Linked DNA regions of Homo sapiens: region 1 is linked to region 2. Evidence: fine-mapped expression QTL. A gene starts in region 2. The other region holds a variant in brackets. All regions are shown on one strand. Distances are between the middles of the regions.

Region 1 (2,918 bases), 53 kb after region 2:
AAGCAAGAGCAAACAAATTCAAAAGCTAGCAGAAGACAAGAAATAACTAAGATCAGAGGAGAGCTGAAGGAGATAGAAACAGAAAAAAACCCTTTAAAAAAATCAGTGAATCCAGGATTTGGTTTTTTGAAAAGATCAACAAAAGAGATAGTCTGATGGCCAGACTACTAAAGAAGAAAAGACAGAAGAATCAAATAGACACAGTAAAAAATGATAAAGTGGATATCACCACTGATCCCACAGAAAAACAAACTACCATCAGAGAATACTATAAACACCTCTTCACATATAAACTAGAAAATCTAGAAGAAATTGATAAATTCCTGGACACATACACCTTCTCAAGACTAAACAAGGGAGATGTCGAATCCCCAAACAGACCAAGTTATAAAATTGAGGCAGTAATTAAAAGCCTACCAACCAAGAAAAGCCTAGTACCAGACAGATTCACAGCCGAATTCCACCAGAGGTACAAAGAGGAGCTGGTACCATTCCTTCTGAAACTATTCCAAACAATAGAAAAAGAGAGACTCCACCCTAACTCATTTTATGAGGCCAGCATCATCCTGATACCAAACTCTTTCAGAGACACAACAAAAAAAGAAAAATTCAGGCCAATATCCCTGATGAATATTGATGCGAAAATCCTCAATAAAATACTGGCAAACCATATCCAGCAGCACATTAAAAAGTTTATCCACCACGATCAAGTTGGCTTCCTCCCTGGGATGCAAGGTTGGTTCAACATATGCAAATCAATAAACATAATCCATCACATAAAGAGAACCAATGACAAAAAGCACACGATTATCTCAATAGATGCAGAAAACGCCTTCAATAATATTCAACACCCATTCATGCTAAAAACTCTCAATAAACTAGGCATTGACAGAACGTATCTCAAAATAATAAGTGCTATTTATGACAAACCCACAGCCAATATCATACTGAATGGGCAAAAACTGGAAGCATTCCCTTTGAAAACCGCCACAAGATAAGGATGCCCTCTCTCACCACTCCTATTCAACATAGTATTGGAAGTTCTGGATAGGGTAATCAGGCAACAGAAAGAAATCAAGGGTATTCAAATAGGAAGAGAGGAAGTTAAATTGTCTCTGTTTGCAGATGACATGATTGTATATTTAGAAAACCCCATTGTCTCAGCCCAAAATCTCCTTAAGCTGATAAG[C/T]AACTTCAGCAAAGTCTCAGGATACAAAATCAATGTGCAAAAAGCACAAGCATTCCTATACACCAATAATAGACACAGAGCCAAATCATGAGTGAACTCCCATTCACAACTGCTACAAAGAGAATAAAATACCTAGGAATACAACTTGCAAGGGATGCGAAGGACCTCTTCAAGTAGAACTACAAACCTCTGCTCAAGGAAATGAGAGAGGACACAAACAAATGGAACAACATTCCATGCTCATGGATAGTAAGAATCAATATCATGAAAATGGCCATACTACCCAAAGTAATTTACAGATTCAATGCTATTCCCATCAAGCTACCACTGACTTTCTTCACAGAATTAGAAAAAACTACTTTAAATTTCATATGGAACCAAAAAAGAGCTCATATAGCCAAGACAATCCTAAGTAAAAAGAACAAAGCTGGAAGCATTACATTACCTGACTTCAAACTATACCTCAAGGCTACAGTAACCAAAACAGCATGGTACTGGTACCAAAACAGATATGTAGACCAATGGAACAAAACAGAGTCCTCAGAAATAACACCACATATCCACAACCATCTGATCATTGACAAACCTGATGAAAACAAGCAATGGGGAAAGGAAAGGATTCCTTATTAATAAATGGTGTGGAGAAAACTGGCTAGCCATATGCAGAAAACTGAAACTGGACCCCTTCCTTACACCTTATACAAAAATTAACTCAAGATGGATTAAAGACTTAAACATAAGACCTAAAACCATAAAAACCCTAGAAGAAAACCTAGGCAATACCATTCAGGACATAGGCATGGGCAAAGACTTTAAGACTAAAACACCAAAAGCAATTGTAACAAAACCCAAAATTGACAAATGGGATCTAATTAAACTAAAGAGCTTCTGCACGGCAAAAGAAACTATCATCAGAGTAAACAGGCAACCTACAGAATCGGAAAAAATTTTGCAATCTATCCTGACAAAGGGCTAATATCCAGAATCTACAAGGAACTTAAACAAATTTACAAGAAAAAACCAAACAACCCCATCAAAAAGTGGGCAAAAGTTGTGAACAGACACTTCTCAAAAGAAGACATTTATGTGGTGAACAAACATATAAAAAACACTCATCATCATGGGTCATTAGAGAAATGCAAATCAAAACCACAATAAGATACCATCTCACACCGGTTAGAATGGCAATCATTAAAAGGTCAGGAAACAACAGATGCTGGAGAAGATGTAGAGAAATAAGAACACTTTTACACTGTTGGTGGGAGTGTATGTTAGTTCAACCATTGTGGAAGAGAGTGTGGCAATTCCTCAAGGATCTACAATCAGAAATACCATTTGACCCAGGAATCCCATTGCTGGGTATATACCCAAAGGATTATAAATCATTCTACTATAAAGACACATGCACACATATGTTTATTGCAGCACTATTCACAATAGCAAGGACTTGGAACCAACTCAAATGCCCATCAATAATAAACTGGATAAAGAAAATGTGACACATATACACTATGGAATACTATGCAGCCATAAAAAATAATGAGTTCATGTCCTTTGCAGGGACATGGATGAAGCTGGAAACCATCATTCTCAGTAAACTAACACAGGAACTGAAACCAAAGACTACATGTACTCACTCATAAGTGGGAGGTGAACAATGAGAACACATGGACACAAGGAGGAGAACATCACACAGTGGGGCCTGTCAGGGGGTAGGGAGCAAGGGGAG
Region 2 (2,918 bases):
GAAAGGTGCTGGAGCTGTTGGAGGGACGCCAGGAGGTGGCAACTACCAGGGGGTGTGAGGGGCTGACCTGGGATGGAATCCTGCCACCCGGACTCAGGAAGAAAATCCTGAGGTGGCGACCTGCAGACTGGGCTGGGAGATGGAGAGCCCGCTCACGCCCACCCGACCGCCTACCACCAGTGTTCCCGGATGCATGGGCTCCAGCGCCTGCCCTTTCGCCATTTCCTCCCAACTGGCATTAAATCCTGGTGTGGTAGATATCAGTGATTAAGAGTCTAGGCAGCCACGTGTTCTATTGCCGCCAGTCCGCAGGAAACGCAAGTGATCGTTTTGCTGCGTTAACTCTATGGGCGCCCAAATCTTAGGAATCCATTCCACGCCACCCCGAAAACAGCGCTTGACCCTTCTGGACTGCCACGCAGGAGGCGATCAATGTTTTTCTTTCTTTATTTTTTTAAGAGACAAGGTCTCGCCCTGTCACCTAGGCTGGAGCACAATGAGGCTCACTACAGCCTGGAACTCCCGGACGCAAGTGATCCTCCTCAGCCTCCGGAGTAGCTGAGACCTCAGGCGTGCGCCACCATGCCTGGCATCAATCAATGTCTTTCAAAATAAAGGCTGTTAAACGTAGTATAGGAAAGAAGCTTTTTAATGGTAGGTTCTACCAGACGTGTTTGTTTGATTTTTAGGTTTGGTTAATGCATTGTTTCCCGTACAATCTCAACCCGCGGAAACCCCGAAACTCTAGAATTCGTGCCGGTCTCTTTCGCTTCCAGGTCATCCCCGGGGCAACGGCCGCCGCTCTAATTCTTGTCAGAACCTCCAGGCCAGTTTCAGCAACGTGCAGGCAGAAGCTGGCCCCTCGGTGGGATGCGAGGGCGTGTGGAGCGCGGGGAGGAGAGCCCCACAGGCCTTTCCTGGGCACCCGCGGTGGATGGGAAGGCTCCTTCGGGCGCCTTTCAGGGAAGTTGTTTGGCTGAGGGAAGGTGGTCCGTCACGTGAATGTTTAAAAGTTGTTACCTTGGAGAAGAAATGGAGGAAAGGATTGGCTTTCGGAGGTGGGCTGGAAACTACAAAACCGAGCTTCCTGGGAATGCCTTTTAGGCCGACAGGAAGTGGAGCGTCACCGAAAGGGAGGGGCGGCCACTCGGGGACTGTCCCTTGCTCCAGGCGCTCACTTTGCGGGCGGCACTTTTTCCAGGTTGTTAATCCAGCTAATGGAGAAGGATAGATGCACGCTACTTGGTTTAGAAAAAAAAACAAAAATGAGCAAACGAGACGCCCCTTCCGTTTTATGATAACTAAGCTGCAGGGAAATAAATCGGCTGGCCCTACTGCAATCTACTGCACTCGAGGTAAGGAGACACAGCAAAATGCTCCAGTATTAGTATTTTTCTTTTTGTAGTGAGGATATATGCATGTTTTGCTCTCGTTCTGAGAACTTTGTGTGTGTGTATGGAGTATTCGGTGGTTTTATTTTTGAAAATATGTACTTATTCTACAATTTTGAAAAATGTTAATTAAAACTGCTGTGTAAAAACAGCTAGGTTTCAGAAGTAAGTTCTGGGAAGAGTATTTTGTATTTGCCTTTGTTAGCGTATATTTCATTCTTTTAATTTAAGTGTAGAAATATTTAAAATTAGTAGCATTTACTCTTTTTTTGGAAGGAAGTTTTTGTATTAGCAGTAGACCTTGAATTTTACTCTACTGCACTGCTGAGGAAAAATTAATTGGGTGCAAACTAGATAGTTTAAAGATAAATAATTCTATGGTAATTGGATTTTTCTCCAAAACGCCCTTATTCAATATGATTTAACTTGGGAGAAGGCGGGAGAAGTAATAGAAATAATTAAATTTCAGCAACTGATTTCCAGCATAATCCTAACTCATCAAGGTCAGCTGCATTTTGAACTTTTTTGTATTCTGCCTTTGAAAATAAGTCCTATATTTTATACTGTATTGCTACAAATCAGAAATCGCTTAAGTGGTTTATGGAGAAACCTACATTACCTCTTTTCAAATAGTTTTGAAATGGGTACGAGAAATTGAAGTTTAATTTCAGTTACATCAGTTTCCAGAGACTCCCAAATTCCCCCACTCCCCATCCCCCAAGATATATGATAGGTATTCCCATGAGGACCTTCTCCTTTCAAAAAGTGATGGTGATGTCTTCACATCTTTCAGTCTTAAAGAGCATAATGACCAAATTTAAAACTAAAGGCATTTTATTTGCAATATAAAAGTGTAGGTGGACACTATTTAAATCAGGAAAAGTTCTATGAGTGAAAAACGTCAGGCTGTGCCTCACTTCTTTTGTCATTGTCAAATAATGTTTGTCCCATATATGTTAACCTATCTTTGTTGTCATATCAAATTTGTTTCTTTCATTCATTCAACAGTCATTTAATGAATGTCTTCTATGTGCCAGGCTCTGTGCTGGGTGCTGGGGATACAAAGCCAGATAAATAAAAAGTTCCTTCCCTGGAGGAATTTTATGGAAAAGAGTAGTTATGAAGAAAGGGGGGGGTTGTGACAGGCAAATCAGTCTCGTCTTTTAGAACTCTGTGATGTTTAAAATTTACACAAGGGATGCCCTTGGAGCAGTGTGAAGGGACAGCTGTCACTCAGTAAGTCTTTCCATAAATACTAAGCCATTCCTTTTGCCCTTTCAATATGTCGTATTGGAAAATCAAAAATGATTCTTCAACTCTGTTCAAATGGTATCTTGCAAGTCACCAATCAGAATTCTTAATTCCTTTGTATGTTACAAGATTAAATCGGTTTATAAGATCATAAAATACATATACTATTGAACATTTTTAAACTAAAAAATGGATTTCTACCCTGAACTTTTAAATATGTTTTTATATCTCTCCTACCAACTAATTGCATTAGGTTAGCTATGCAGACTCTATGGG

Alleles and levels. Positions count from the first base shown, and alleles are read on the strand shown. Sizes are in standard deviations (SD) of each study's normalised expression.
In carriers of allele C in region 1, the expression in whole blood of the gene that starts at base 1,146 in region 2 tends to be higher than with T alone (moderate effect, 0.54 SD a copy in GTEx).

What was found. PIP is the estimated chance that this variant, and not a neighbour inherited with it, causes the effect.
Region 1: its variant is the best candidate, but not a certain one, in a credible set for the expression of EXTL2 in whole blood (GTEx, PIP 0.60).

What each region holds. Positions count from the first base shown.
Region 1 is chr1:100,839,769-100,842,686 of GRCh38, reverse strand. No RefSeq gene overlaps it. Among named protein-coding and RNA genes, the nearest start is that of EXTL2, 54 kb to the left of the region's middle. The variant C/T (reference allele first, on the strand shown) is at 1,190.
Region 2 is chr1:100,893,070-100,895,987 of GRCh38, reverse strand. EXTL2 (exostosin like glycosyltransferase 2) reads left to right here and starts at 1,146. Exons shown (of 5, transcript NM_001033025.3): 1 at 1,146-1,355. RefSeq lists enhancers at 404-473, 368-1,090, 1,091-1,814.